2 separate regions of the Homo sapiens genome follow, and region 2 is linked to region 1. Evidence: fine-mapped expression QTL. Tissue or cell type: whole blood. Region 1 holds a variant in brackets; the other region holds the start of a gene. All regions are shown on one strand. Distances are from middle to middle.

Region 1 (7,825 bases):
CCTGTGTCTAAAAATAAAATAAAATAAAAAATGAGATCAATAACAGTGTCGCCGAGGCCATCTTGGAGCCTGAGGTGAGAGGAATAATCAGTATGAGTAATCCTGTCATAATCTTTTTTTTTTTTTTTTTTTTTAGACAGAATCTCGCTCTGTCACCCAGACTGGAGTGCAGTGGCGCAATCTCAGCTCACTGCAACCTCCACCTCCTGGGTTCAAGTGACTCTCCTGCCTCAGCTTCTCAAGTAGCTAGGACTACAGGCGCCCTCCACCACACCTAGCTAATTTTTTGTATTTTTAGTAGAGACAGGGTTTTGCCATGTTGGCCAGGCTGATCTCGAACTCCTGACCTCAAATGATCTGCCTGCCTCGGCCTCCCAAAGTGTTGGAATTACAGGCGTGAGTCACCGTATTTGGCTTTAAACAAAATAAATTTTTAAAATTTTATCCAGCATAGAGGTTTTTGCATTCATTCAGAGTTAAAAAAAAAATGTGGCCGGGTGTGGTGGCTCACGCCTGTAATCCCAGCACTTTGGGAGGCTGAGGTGGGCAGATCACGAGGTCAGGAGATCGAGACCATCCCAGCTAACACAGTGAAACCCTGTCTCTACTAAAAATACAAAAAATTAGCCGGGCGTGGTGGCGGGCGCCTGTAGTGCCAGCTACTCAGGAGGCTGAGGCAGGAGAATGGTGTGAACCCAGGAGGTGGAGCTTGCAGTGAACCGAGATCGCGCTACTGCACTCCAGCCTGGGTGACAGAGCAAGACTCCATCTCAAAAAAATAAGTAAATAAAAATAAAAAATAAAAAAACGTACTGCAGGCTGGGCACGGTGTTGCGGGGGGGCTTTGAAGTGATTAGGGTCAGATGAGCTCATGAGAGTGGAGTCTTCTAATGAGATTAGTTCCTTTCTCTTTTTCTTTTTTGAGACAAGGTCTCCCTGTATTGCCCAGGCTGGAGTGCAGTGGTGTGATCATGACTTCGTGCAGCCTCTGTCTCTAAGGGTAGACTCATGCCTGTAATCTCAGCCCCTTGGGGGCCAAGTGGGGAGGATCGCTTGAGCTCAGGAGTTCGAGACCAGCCTGGGCAACCTGGCAAGACTCCCATCTCTACAAATAATTTTTTTTTTGAGACGGAGTCTCGCTCTGTCACCCAGGCTCTGTCACCCAGGAGTGCAGTGGTGTGATCTCGGCTACTGCAAGCTCCGCCTCCCAGGTTCACGCCATTCTCCTGCCTCAGCCTCCAGAGTAGCTGGGACTACAGGCGCCCGCCACCTCGCCCGGCTAATTGTTTGTATTTTTAGTAGAGATGGGGTTTCACCGTGTTAGCCAGGATGGTCTCGATCTCCTGACCTCGTGATCCGCCCACCTCGGCCTCCCAAAATGCTGGGATTACAGGTGTTACCCACCACGCCTGGCCTTTTTTTTTTTTTTTTTTTTTGAGACGAAGTCTCTCTCTGTCTCCCAGGCTGGAGTGCAGTGGCACAATCTCAGCTCACTGCAACCTCTGCCTCCCGAGTTCAAGTGATTCTTCTGCCTCAGCCTCCCAAGTAGCTGGGATTACACTGCGCCCGGCTAATTTTTAGTAGAGATGGGGTTTCACATCTTGGCCAGGTTGGTTTCGTACTCCTGACCTCATGATCCACCCGCCTCGAGTTCCCAAAGTGCTGGGATTACAGGTGTGAGCTACCGCACGCAGCCACAAATAATTTTTTAAAAATTAGCCAGGTCTGATGGGCACACCTGTAGTCCCAACTACTCGGGAGGCTAAAGCAGGAGGATCACTTGAGCCCAGGAGTTTGAGGCTGCAGTGAGCTATGATCGCACCACTGCACTCCAGCCTGGGCGACAAAACAAGGCCCTGCCTCAAAAAGAAAAAAAAAAGTGGGGGCGGGCTGGGTGCAGTGGCTCATGCCTGTGATCCCAGCACTTTGGAAGGCCAAGGAGGGCAGATCACTTGAGGTCAGGAGTTCGAGACTAGCCCGGACAACATGGCGAAACCCCGTCTCTACTAAAAATACAAAAAGTTGGCCAGGCGTGGTGGCAGATGCCTGTAATCCCAGCTACTCAGGAGGCCGAGTCAGGAGACTCACTTGAGCCTGGGAGGTAGACATTGCAGTGAGCCGAGATCATGCCACTGCACCCCACCTGGACAACAGAGCAGGACTCTGTCTCAAAAAAAAAAAACGGTAAAAAGTCAGGTTCAAGGGGCTCTGGGGGCAGAGGTCCCAGGCAGCAGGCACAGTGTTTGAAAAGGCCCTGACGCAGGACCTCACCTGTTGCATTTGAGGAATCCCAAGGAGGCCCTGGGGGTGGAACAGAGTAAGCAAGAGGGAGAGCCGGGAAGATGAGCTCACAGAGACGGGCTTTGGGGGCTGCGGGGAGGGGTCTGCGTGTCACTCCGGATGTAGCCAGGAAGTGATTGGCAGCGGCTGGGCTCTGACATCATGTTTTTCTGCAAAGATGAACAAAACGAGCAAGACATGACTCCTGTCCCCAAGGAGAGGTTTCGGGATGGAGCTGAGTCATCATTTGAACTTGCAGACATTTGTAAGACAGGCCTGGGGTGGGAGGAGGTGGGATCACCACGCCAGGTGGCAGCGGAGGCTACGGCGAAGGCTGAGGCACATTTGGGAAATTCTGAGGACAGTGGCAGGGGAGGGGCAGGGAAACTGTGCACAGCAAGAGGCTGGCAGGTCTGGGACTATGCCTCGCAGAGAGAGGGAGAAGGAGAGGCTCTGTCTGAGGTCACGTTTGCCTGGTTCAAATCCCACCTGCAGCCGTCATCAGCTGTGTGTCCTTGGGTTGGTGGCTTAGCCTCCCTGAAACTCCCTCTTTTCATGGGAAAAGTCAGGTTGTGGAAATGTTTACCCAAAACAAGGACCTAGAATGGGCTTGGCATAGAAAGTGCTCCGTACACCTCCCCTACTGTAGTGACCTCGAAAGCCACT[C/T]GAATGCCGGACGCGGTGACTCACACCTGTAATCCCAACACTTTGGGAGGCCAAGGCGAATGGATCACTTGAGGTCAGGAGTTCGAGACCAGCCTGGCCCACATGGTGAAACCCCCTCTCTCCTAAAAATGCAAAAATTAGCTGGGTGTGGCGGAAGGCGCCTGTAATCCCAGCTACTCCGAGAGGCTGAGGCACGAGAATCGCTTGAACCCGGGAGACGGAGCTTGCAGTGAGCTGAGATCGCACCACTGCACTCCAGCCTGGGAGACAGAGTGAGACTCTGACTCTGTCTCAAAAAAAAAAAAAAAACAGAACGGTATATCCATCAGGCAGGACATTCCTGGGGCCTAAGAGTCACCTCCCAGTGGCTGAAACAAAAGCCAGATCTCTCTCTGGTCGAGGCAAAATTTCTTGCTACACAATGGACAGGAATCATTCGCCTTGCACTGAGTATTTTACAACTTACACACTTGCTCACAGACATCGGAACAGCTGGAACCCCCGGCAGCAGGCATTGCAGACAATGCTAGCATGGTGGGCAGCTTCGGGCCTGGCTCCAGTGATCCCCCAGGGTGGTTAATTTTTTTTTTTTTTTTTTTCTTAGAGATGGGCTTCGCTCTATTGCCCAGGCTTGAATGCAGTGACATCGCAGCTCACTGCAGCCTTGAACTCCTGACTTAAGGAATCTTCCCATCTCAGCCTCCCAAATAGCTGGGATTGCAGGCATGGGCCACCACACCCCGCTATGCAGGGGTTCTTCCTGCCCACTGCATAAAGAAAGACCACGTGACTGGGTGCAGGGGCTCACGCCTGTAATCCCAGCACTTTGGGAGGCCAAAGTGGGAGGATTCCTTGAGTCCAGGAGTTTGAGACCAGCCTGGGCAACATAGGGAGACCCCCAGTCTAACAAAGTATTTTACTTAAAAAAAAAAAAAAAATAGAGGCTGGGCGCGGTGGTTCACACCTGTAATCCCAGCACTTTGGGAGGCCGAGGTGGGCAGATCACCTGAGGTCGGGAGTTCGAGACCAGCCTGGCCAACATGGAGAAACCCCGTCTCTACTAAAAATACAAAATTAGCCGAGCATAGTGGTGGCGGGCGCCTGTAATCCCAGCTATTCGGGAGGCTGAGGCAGGAGAATCGCTTGAACCCGGGAGGCGGAGATTGCAGTGAGCTGAGATTGAGCCACTGCACTCCAGCCTGGGCAACAGGGTGAGACTGTCTCAAAAAAAAAAAAAAGAAAAGAAAGGAAACAACGAAAGAGAAAGAGACCACAGCATTGTAGTAGAGAAAGAGTTTAATAGACATGAGGCTGGCCACGCCACGTGGGAGATGGAATTCATAAATCAACTTGTTCAAACCTCATAGGTTAGAGGTTTTTCTTTATTGCGACGAGTCTCGCTCTGTCACCAAGGCTGGGGTGCAGTGGCGCCACCTCAGCTCACTGCAACCTCTGCCTCCTGGGTTCAAGCAATTCGCAACCTCTGCCTCCTGGGTTCAGGAGGTTCTCCCGCCTCAGCCTTCTGAATAGCTGGGATTACAGGTGCACGCCACCACATCCAGCTAATTTTTTTTTTTTTTTTTTTGGTGGAGATGGAGTTTCACCATGTTGGCCAAGCTGGTCTCGAACTCCTAACCTCAGGTGATCCGTTCACCTCAGCCTCCCAAAGTGCTGAGATTCCAGGCGTGAGCCTCCACGCCCAGCCTAGGTTAGGGGTTTTTCAAGGGCAGTTTTGTGGGAAGGAGTGGGAGTGGGCCAGGTAAACAGGTGCTTGCTGCTGGTTGGTTGGGGGCAGAGATGGACTCACAGCAGGTTGCAGGGGTCCTCCTGCCGGCCAGATCGCTTCTGTGTGGAACCTCAGGAGCAGGGTTGTCAGTCCAGGTGGAGCCACGGGTGTCAGACATGCAAAACACGTGGAAAGACATCTCAAAAGGCCAAACTACAATAATGGTGTTATTTGCAGGAGTAATTGGGGGAACCACATCTCTTTTTTTTTGTTTTTTTTTTGTTTTTTTTTTGTTTTTTTGCATGCTGAGTTTCGCTTTGTCGCCCAGGCTGGAGTGCAGTGGTGAGATCTCGGCTCACTGCAACCTCTGCCTCCCAGGTTCAAGCGATTCTCCTGCCTCAGCCTCCCAAGTATTTGGGACTACAGGCATGGGCTACCAAGCCTGGTTAATTTTTGTATTTTTAGTACAGATGGGGTTGCACCATGTTGGCCAGGCTGGTCTTGAACTCCTGGCCTCAAGTGATCCACCCGCCTTGGCCTCCCAAAGTGCTGGGATTACAGGCGTGAGCCGCCGCACCTGGCCTGGAAGCTGCATATCTTATAACCTCCAGAATAACGTTTGCACCTTAACAGATGTCAGGCTCCCCTCCTCCCTCAACCTGAAGGCCTCAGGTTAGCTTGACAAAAGCTGTTGGGTTTTGTGCAAGGTCTACTATCACTTAAACTGTAGCCTAAATGTCTTCCCAAGTTAGCTGGGCCCAATAGCCCAGGAATAATTAAGGCAAGATGGGGGTTAGTTAGTTTAGCCTACTGTTATAATTTTCTCGGCTGGACGTGGTGGCTCACGCCTGTAATTCCAGCACTTTGGGAGGCCAAGGCGGGCGGATCACGAGGTCATGAGATCGAGACCATCCTGGCCAACATGGTGAAACCCCATCTCTACTAAAAATACAAAACTTAGCTGGGCATGGTGGCGCGTGCCTGTAGTCCCAGCTATTTGGGAGGCTGAGGCAGCAGAATCGCTTGAACCCGGGAGGCGGAGGTTGCAGTGAGCCGAGATTGTGCCACTGCACTCCAGCCTGGGCGACAGAGCGAGACTCCGTCTCAAAAAAAAAAAATTTTTTTTTCTCACTGATAGAACTTTTGCAAAGGCGCTTTCAGCTAATTTTATTTTTTGTAGATATGGGGCCCTGCTCTGTTACCCAGGCTGGTCTTGAACTCCTGGCCTCAAGCGATCCTTCCTCCTTGGCCTCCCAAAGGGCTGGGATCACAGGATGAGCAGCTACTGCACCCGGCTGTATGATGCTTAATTTTTTTTTTTTTTTTTTTTTTTTTGGTGACAGAATCTCAGTCTCAGTCTGTCACCCGGGATGGAGTGCAGTGGTGCAATCTTGGCTCACTGCAACCTCCACCTCATGGGTTCAAGTGATTCTTATGCCTCAACCTCCCCAGTAGCTGGGACTACAGGCACCTACCACCACGCCTGGCTAATTTATGTATTTTTTAGTAGAGACGGGGTTTTGCCATGTTGGCCAGGCTGGTCTTGAACTCCTGACCTCAAGTGATCCACCAGCCTCAGCCTCCCAAAGTGCTGGGATTACAGGCGTGAGCCACCGCGCCCCGCCCGGTGGTTAATTTTATATGCCATCATGGCTGGGCTGTGGGTGCCTGCATATTTGGTCAAACATTACTCTGTGCATGCCGGTGAGGGGGTTATTAGATGAGATGAGCCTTTGACCCTTTGCATCAGTAGACTCACTGAGTCACTCAAACCCACTACCCTCCCTAGCACGGGTGGGCCTTGCGGAATTCACTGAAGGCCCGGATGGAATACAGAGGCTGCCACTCCCCTGGGGAGCAGAGAATTCCTCCCACCTGAAGGCCTTCAGACTGGAACATCAGCTTTTTCCTGTCTTCAGACTCAAACAGAAAGATCAGCTCTCAGCCGGGCATGGTGGCTCACGCCTGTAATCCCAGCATTTTGGGAGGCAGGAGACTTGAGGTCAGGAGTTTGAGACCAGCCTTTCCAACATGGTGAAACCCTGTCTCTACTAAAAATACAAAAATTAGCCGGGCGTGATGGCGCATGCCTGTAATCCCAGCTACTCGGGAGGCTAAGGGGGGAGGATCATTTGAGCCCAGGAGGCAGAGGTTGCAGTGAGCCGAGATCATGCCACTGCTCTCCAGCTGGGGCAACAGAGCGAAGCTCCATCTCAAAAAAAATAAAAATAAAAAGGAACATCGGCTCTCTTGGGTCTCCAGCTTGCAGACTTCAGATGTTGTGACTTGTCAGCCCCCGTGCATCAATACCTTATAATAAATCTCTTGGCCGAGTGTGGTGGCTCACGCCTGTAATCCCAGCACTTTGGGAGGCCAAGGCAGGCGGATCACCTGAAGTCGGAAGTTCAAGACCAGCCTAATCAACATGGAGAAACCCCATCTCTACTAGAAATACAAAATTAGCCAGGTGTGGTGGCGCATGCCTGTAATCCCAGCTACTGGGGAGGCTGAGGCAGGAGAATCGCTTGAACCCGGGAAGCAGAGATTGTGGTGAGCCGAGATTGCATCATTGCACTCCAGCCTGGGCAACAAGAGCAAAACTCTGTCTCAAAAAAAAAAAAAAAATCTCTTATTCTCTCTCCCCTCCTGCTGGTTCTGTTTCTCTGGAGAACCCTGACTAATTCACCCCCAGCTCCTCCTGATGAACGGAGGCAGGCCCTGGACAGCAGTGGGCCAGGATTTGAGGCTCTTGGTCTAACAGTCTGCAAGGAACAGAATCCTTCTGACCACGTGTGAGTGAGTCTAGAAGTGGACTCTGCCCCAGAGACACCTTGGTTGCCACCTTTCAGAGCCCTGAGACAGAGGATGCCAAAGTTAAGCCACATCTGGATTCCTGACCCACAGAAACTGTGAGATAAGAAAAGTGAATATAAGCTGGGCACGGTGGCTCATGCCGGTAATTCCAGCACTCTGGGAGGCCAAGGCAGGCAGATGACTTGAGCCAAGGAGTTTGAGACCAGCCTGGGCAACATAGCGAGACCCTGTCTTGCCCTTTTCTAAGAGGCCCACCTCTACCCCTACTCCACACATGCCCCAGCATTTACCCCACTTTCTTTCTTCCTCATGCTCACCATCCTCTAGCATGCCATACAA
Region 2 (7,825 bases), 110 kb after region 1:
ATTCTCCTGCTTCAGCCTCCCGAGATTACAGGCGCCCGCCACCAGGCCCGGCTAATTTTTTTTGTATTTTTAGTAGAGATGGGGTTTCAGCGTGTTAGCCAGGATGGTCTCGATCTCCTGACCTCATGATCGGCCCGCCTCAGCCTCCCAAAGTGCTGGGATTACAGGCGTGAGCCACCGTTCCCGGCCCAGTTTTGCTCTTTGTTCTGTGGTCAAAGGTGTCAACGCAAGGGGACACTGGGTGGAAGGTGGGTGTGCGGGGACTCTCTGCACCATCTTCACAACTAAAATTATCCCCCCCAATTTTTTTTTTCATAAAGGTAAAGTGTAAACAAAACAACAAAGGGCTGGGTGCCGTGGCTCCCGCCTGTAATCTCAGCACTTTGGGAGGCCAAGGTGGGAGGATTCCTTGAGCCCAGGAATTCAAGACCAGCCTGATCAACATAGTGAGATCCCATCTCTGCAAAACAACAACAACAAAGGAAGCCTTATGCAGTTATGAGTGGATCACCCAGAATATGTTATCCTCTGCATCCATTTCAGAGCAACACACAGAAACATCAATGGCTTAGAACAGCCTGCAGGGCTGCGTCAACCATCAACTTCAATAAAACCCCAAGGTTCGCCTCAGCTTCATTCTTGGGCTTCTAAATTTCTTCTATTTATGCGTCTTTCATTCATTCATTCATTCATTCATTCACTTATTTATTTGAGACAGGGTCTCACTCCGTCACCCAGGCTGGAGTGCAGTGGTGTGATCACAGTTCACTGCAGCCTCCAACTCCCGGGCTCAAGCGATCCTCCCATCTCAGCCTCCTGAGTAGCTGGGACTACAGGTGCTGGGTCTACAGGACTACCGGGAGGCTGAGATGTGCTTATACCAACAGCGTCCTGTTGGTGTAGGGCTCATAGGCTTATGAGAGTTGATCCAGCCCTCCCAATAATCCCAGGGTATACAGGAGACAGGTCCAGCTAATATCAGCATGCCCATTTACAGAGGAGGAGATTAAGGCTCTCTCTGCCTCTCCCTCCCTCCCTCCCTCCCACTCTCACTCTCTCTCTCTCTCTCACACACACACGCGCGCACGCACACACACACACACTCACACACAGAGTTCTTGGAATTCTAGTGACTCCTCCACATTGCTGGGCAGCTTCCCTGTTATGCTCCCCGAGAACCCTGCTCCCCAGCTAAGCCAGGTGAGCCTGGGGGACCGAGGGGCGCAGGGCCGGGAGCTCTAAACCCTGCCCCAGTGTCGGCACCCAGGGTCCAGTCCTGCCTCCCCAAGCACCAGCTCCATCACCCACAGTTGCACGCACAGATGCACGGGGAATCACGCGACCTCACTCCCTCCCACACTCTCGCCTGTCCCCCCACCCCCCCACAACTGCTCCTACCTCAAATCTCCACCCATGTGTCTGCCATCAGAGAAGGGACGCCTTTGCCTTCATTCCGCCCTCACCTGCGATCCATCTACCATGCCTCCACGTCTCCGCAAAGCCCTTAACCAACCACAGTGACAACAGGGTTTGAACTCCGATGCTCCAGCGTTCCTGCAAGCTCTCGCCCCGCGGACAGAGTCCCCAGCCTGGGCAACCGGCCACCAACACCTTTTGCCTAAGGACTCTCCAAGCTCCGTATTTTACACCCTAAACATTCCAAATTCTGCAAAGGGAATTTTAGACAGTCCAAGAATGCTCTTTAGGGACGGGACCCAGCGCGCAGTGGGCCACATGGTCCCCAACTCACGTTCACACGCTGTGGGCAGCGGGGCACACACGGACTCCCATTCCGCGTGGCAGGACAAGCAGGCGGCGTGAGGCTCTGCAGGGCCCAATTACCCCACGGTCAGGCCAGCCTGAGCGCTGGGACCCTGATCCCCATGCCCCAGATGAGAAGACTAGGAAGAGGGGATTTGCACACACAACCACAACCTCACACAACACACACACAACACACAACCACACACAACACATTACCACACACAACCTCACACAACCAAACACAACCACACATTACAACCTCACACAACCACACACCACAACCACACACACCCTCACAAAACACACCTCACACAACCACATACAACCACACACAACCTCACTCCACCATCCACAAATTATACACAATCTCATCATGCAAGTACACACACAACCACGTTACAACTCCACAAATCTCACATACAATGACCATACAGCTAAACACAACTTCACACATATAGTCATACACTGATACAATCACAACTCCACCATACACAGTCATACAGACACGATTACACATATTGCCACAATCATATGCAATCACACACAAACACAATTATACAACCATACACAACCACACAAAGCCATCCACAAAATCATGCAATTCTCATCATGCAATCACACACACAACCGTACACTATAACCACACAGCTGCAGAAACCTCCCATACAACACACAACCATACACGGTCTCACACATGCAGTCACACACCCATACACACAATTACACCTCCACCACAATCACAGGCACAATGACACACATGGCTGCACAGTCACACAATCTCGCACAACCACACACAATCCTATACAATCACACAAACATCATGACATAACTATACGCAACCACACATGACCACACAACTATACACACAGTTATACAGCCATCGACACACAACCATATACGATCCCACCCGACCACACAATTACACAACCATACACAATCACGCATGACATGACACATGACCACACACAACCATACACAATCACACAATTACACAACATAAACGATCACTCATGACCCCACACACACATATAATACACAATCACACACAAATCACATGGCCATATGCAGCTACAGACACAATTATATATATTGCCACACACAACCACACATCACACACAATCACATGATCACACACAATCACACACAGCCACACAGACAACTCACCCAGAATCTCACACAGCCCCACCCAGCCAGGCCCCCAGGAAGGCGTCAGGAAGCCAGGACCACAGGTGTCCTGCGGGGCATCCCTGATCTGCAAGGCGGTGGCCACCACGCGGCCCACAAGGTGTTTCCGGCCATGCAGTCCTGCGGGGCAGTGCCTGAACCCTTTGGCAAGTCCCCAAAACCTCTGGCAACCTCTGGAGCCCATGCCTGGGTCCGAGGCCTGGTTTGACCCCCTATAAAATGACGGAAGGAAGTCGAAGGTCCCTGGGCCACAGAGGACCCTCGAGCACGGACGCCTGTCCTGGGGACCCCGCCCTAATTCCCAGAATGTGGGTCATTCCCGGTCATGCGGGGATAACGCCACGGTCCCCAGCCTGGGTTTCCTGCCGGGGCTAATTGAATCCAGGAGGACCCTCCCTCAGGCAAATACCAACAACCCACCCCATCTCAGGCCCTTCACCCACCTCCAATTGTTACATCCCAGTGTGTGTTTACTCAGAAGCGGCTCCGAGGGTGAGAACTGGGGCGGGAGGAGAGGCTCCAGTCAGATGCCTGGCACCCACTCCAGCCCCGCCTCCCACCCCAGCCCCCCCTCCCACCCCAGACTCACCTCCCACCCCATCCCAGCCCCGCACCCCACCCCACCAACCCATCCCAGCCCTGCACCCCACCAACCCATCCCAGCACCCCACCCCATCCCAACCCTGCACCCTACCCCAGCCCCACCTCCCACCCCAGCCTCCCACCCCAGCCCCACCTCCCACCCCAGCCTCCCACCCCAGCCCCGCACCACACCCCAGACTCACCTCCCACCCCAGCCCTGCACCCCATCCCAGTAGCTGTCAGCCCCTTTCCCGCCACCCCTGACCCCAGAGGGCTCCAGGCTGATGCTTGGTTCTTGCTTTAGGTGAAGTTCACGGGTAGAAAAGAAGGGAGGACTCTGGGTGGGAACAGGGATGGGGAGGGCTTCGGCGGTCCCAGGCCCCTCCAGGAACTAGGCCGAATCTACACACCCCAGCTGTATCTACACATCTCAGCTGCATCCACACAATCCCGGCTACGTCCACACACCCTGGCGGCATCTACCCAGCCTGGCCTCGTCTAGAAATCTCAGCCACATCTACACACGCTAGATACATCCACACAATCCCGGCTGCGTCCACACAACCCTACGTGCATCTACACACCACACCTGAGTCCACACAACCCCGGCCGCATCCACACGCCACACCTGCGTCCACATAACCCCCGCCGCATCTACACACCACACCTGCGTCCACACAACCCCTGCCGCATCTACACGCCGCACCTGCGTCCACACAACCCCGGCCACATCTACACGCGGCACCTGAGTCCACACAACCCTGGCCGCATCTACACAACCTGGCCATGTCTACACACCCCAGTGGCGTCCACACAGCCCCGGCTGCCTCTCCACAACCCCGGTGGTGTCTACACAGCCTGGCTGCATCTACACACTCCCGCCACGCCACCTCTACACAGCCCCAGAGGCAACCAAACAGCCCCGGGGCTTGGCGAATGGGGTTGGAGGAAGTGGGGGCTGTTCCGAGGGGAGGCTGAGCCCGCAGGAGACCCCGACTCACCGGGGTTGGAGGAAGTGGGGGCTGTTCCGAGGGGAGGCTGAGCCCGCAGGAGACCCCGACTCACCGCGCTCCGGACGACGAGGCTGCACCGCTACTGCCCGGATCCCGCCCACCCCGAAGTGGAGCAGAAGCCGGAGCTGGGCCCGGGGCTGGAGGAAGGGAGGGGCGGGGCGGGGCCGGGTGGGGGAGCCGCCCCTCCCCCGGCCCCCTGCCAAGCCCCTTCCCCAGTACCTCCTGCTCCGGGCCGGGGGTGCCGCCCAGGCTTGGAGTCTCCGGAGGACAGGGGTCCCAGGGCTCTGCCACCTCCACCCTGGATTCCCAACCCTGGCGGGAGCCAACCCAGAGTGGAAGACGATGGAGATGGGGAGGGGTTGGGGGTAGCCAGGGATGGGAGTGGGCTTCGCAGCTGGGAGCCATGGGGTGGGGGTTGCCCGCAGAGTGGGCGCTGTGGGCAGGTGGGCCCACCTGGGCAGGTGACTCAGGACAGGGCGCAGGGAGGGGTGTGCCCAGGACAGCCCTGGGGGCGAGGTGCTGAGGGCGTTTTCTAGGGCACTGGTGTAACCATTTTGTGTGTGTGTGTGTGTGTGTGTGTGTGTGTGTGTTTTGAGACAGGGTCTCATTCTCTGTCGCCCAGGCTGGATTGCAGTGGCGCGATCTTAGCTCACTGCAGCCTTGACCTCCCGGGCTCAGGTGATCCTCCCACCTCAGAGTCTGGAGTAGCTGAGACTACAGCCGCCTGCCACCACACCAGGCTAATTTTTGTATTTTTAGTAGAGATGGGGGTCTCACCATGTTGCCCGGGAAGGAACTACAGTATTTTTAATATAAATTTTTAATTTTTTAAAAAAATAGAGATGGGGTCTTGCCATGTTGCCCAGGCTGGTCTCGAACTCCTGGGCTCAAGCCATCCTCCCACCTCGACCTCCCAAAGCGCTGGGATTACAGGAGTCAGCAACGTGCCCAGCCTAAACGTTTTAGAAGAGTTTTAGATTCCCACAAAATGTGCAAAGACAGTTCAGAACTCCCCTGTGCGCCACATCCCGGGTCCCCTGTTACTGGCATCCAGGCCAGTGTGATACATTTGTCACAACCAATGAACAACTATTGATGCACGACTGTGAAGTCCACACTTGATTCCAGTTTCCTCAGTTTCCCCCAATGCCCTTTCCTGCTCAGGGCCCCACCCGAGATCCCACGTGGCATTTAGGCGTCACGCCTCCTCGGATCTCTCTGGGCTGTCGCAGTTTCCCAGACATTCCTATTTCTGACACCCTGCCCGCTCCTGGGGAAGGCAGGTCAGGTGTTTTGCAGGACACGCCTCAAGTGGGTTTGTCTGGTGCTTTTCTCCCTCATGGTCAGACTGGGTGGCCTCAGTTTTGACGCGCCACCCGCTGCCACGCTGGCCGCCCCTCCTGCTTAGGTCACCAGGTTGTTCACGTTCCTCCGTGCCGTCGAAGGAGACGGTGCACTTCGTTAGAACCACTGTCTCCTCTCTTATCTCAAGAGACTTTGCGGAAATTTTTTTTGGAACTGCCTTTAGAGACCAGCCCCATTTTATTACCTTTGGCAGAGCGTCTTTGTTGGTGATTTGCTTTTGAGAAGTGCCGCAAGTCCCGGGGAGCCACGCCTGGTGCTGGAGGGAGAGCAGTCCTGGAGGATCCAGCTCCTGGGTCCACGTTTCCCCAGTCGCCCGCAGAATGGTCCAGTCTACTGAGTATGTGCTGTGTGCCCGGCACTCGGCAGGGACTCCCCTAGGTTCTCATGATGGCCTCACAAAAGTAGCTGTCACCTCCTTTTAAGCAGAAGAAGTGGCTACAGCCCTGAGAGCCAGTCATCCAGCTCCTGGGATTCAAGCTGGGGCTCCACACCCAGGGCCTCCTATTGCTGCATTCTTCTGCCCACCCTCCTGTCAGGCTGCAGGCTGCGGTTGGTTCCCAAGAGGCATTTCTAACCTGCTCTGAGCCGTGTGGAGAAGAGCCTGTGACCCCATGGGAACCCCCTCCTCTCTTCCTCAGGGCCATTGGTGGACTCTTTCCAGAACTCCACCCTCTCACCTTCTGATGACTTCCCACCTGGCCCCAAACACTGAGTCCCGGTTCCTCGTGCAGCTATAGCAGCTCTCTGCCTGGGCCAGACGGGGTGCTTAGTAGAGGACCTGGCACACAGCAGTGAAGAGTGGTGGGTGGATGAGTGTGTGTGGATGGGTGGATGGGTGGTTGGGTGGATGGAGGGATGGATGGATGGATGGACAGACGGACGGTAAATGGGTGAATGGATAGATGGGTGTGTGTGTGGATAAATGGATAGATGGGTGTGTGTGTGGATAAATGGATAGATGGGTGTGTGTGTGGATGGGTGGGTGAGTGGGTGGATGAATGGATGAGTGGATGGGTGGATGGATGGATGGATGGGTGGGTGAGTAGACAGGTGGATAGATGGGTAAATGGATGAGTGGGTGGGTGGGTGGAAGGTGGGTGGATGGATGGTTGAATGGAAGGGCAAATGGATGGATGGGTGGGTGGGTAGATGGATGGATGGGTGGGTGGGCAGATGGATGGATGGGTGGAGGGGTAAATAATGGGTGGATGGATGGGCAAATGGATGGATGAGTGGAGGGGTGGGTAGATGGATGAATGGCTAGATGGGCAGGTAGATGGATGGATGGATTGGTGGGTGGGTGGATAGGTGGATGGATGGATAAATGGGTGGGTGGGTGGATGAATGAATGGGTAGATGGGTGGATGGGTGGATAGATGGGTGAGTGGGTGGTTGAATGGATGGATGAATGGATGGATGGATGGATGGATGGATGGATGGATGGATGGATAGATGGATGAATGGGTGTGTGGATGGGTGGGTGTGTGGGTGAGTGGATGGTTGGGTGTGTAGATGGATGGATGGATGGATGGATGGATGGATGGATGGATGGATGGATGGATGAATAGATGTGTGAATGGGTAAATGGATGGACAAATGGATGGTGGATCAATGGATGGAGACGGATGGGTGGATAAGTAGGTGGATGGGTGTGTGGATGGGTGGCTGGATGGATGGATATGTGGATAAGTGGATGGGTGGTTGGATAACTGGGTGGATGGGTATGTGGATAGGTGGATGGATGGTTGGATAAATGGATAGGTGTGTGGATGGGTGGGTGGGTGGGCGGGTGGATGGACGGATAGATGGATGGGTGTGTGGATGGATGTTGGATAAATGGATGGGTGGATAGATGAATGAGTGGATGGATGGGTAGATAAATGGATGAGTGGGTGGATAGGTGAATGGGTGGATGA

The links. PIP is the estimated chance that this variant, and not a neighbour inherited with it, causes the effect.
Region 2: TMPRSS9 starts here. The variant in region 1 is fine-mapped to the expression of TMPRSS9 in whole blood (INTERVAL, PIP above 0.99).

The regions. Positions count from the first base shown.
Region 1 is chr19:2,464,290-2,472,114 of GRCh38, reverse strand. No RefSeq gene overlaps it. Among named protein-coding and RNA genes, the nearest start is that of LINC01775, 6.0 kb to the right of the region's middle. RefSeq lists an enhancer at 2,465-2,564. The variant C/T (reference allele first, on the strand shown) is at 2,947.
Region 2 is chr19:2,357,068-2,364,892 of GRCh38, reverse strand. TMPRSS9 (transmembrane serine protease 9) reads right to left here and starts at 4,628. Exons shown (of 19, transcript NM_001395513.1): 1 at 4,533-4,628. RefSeq lists a silencer at 6,098-6,309.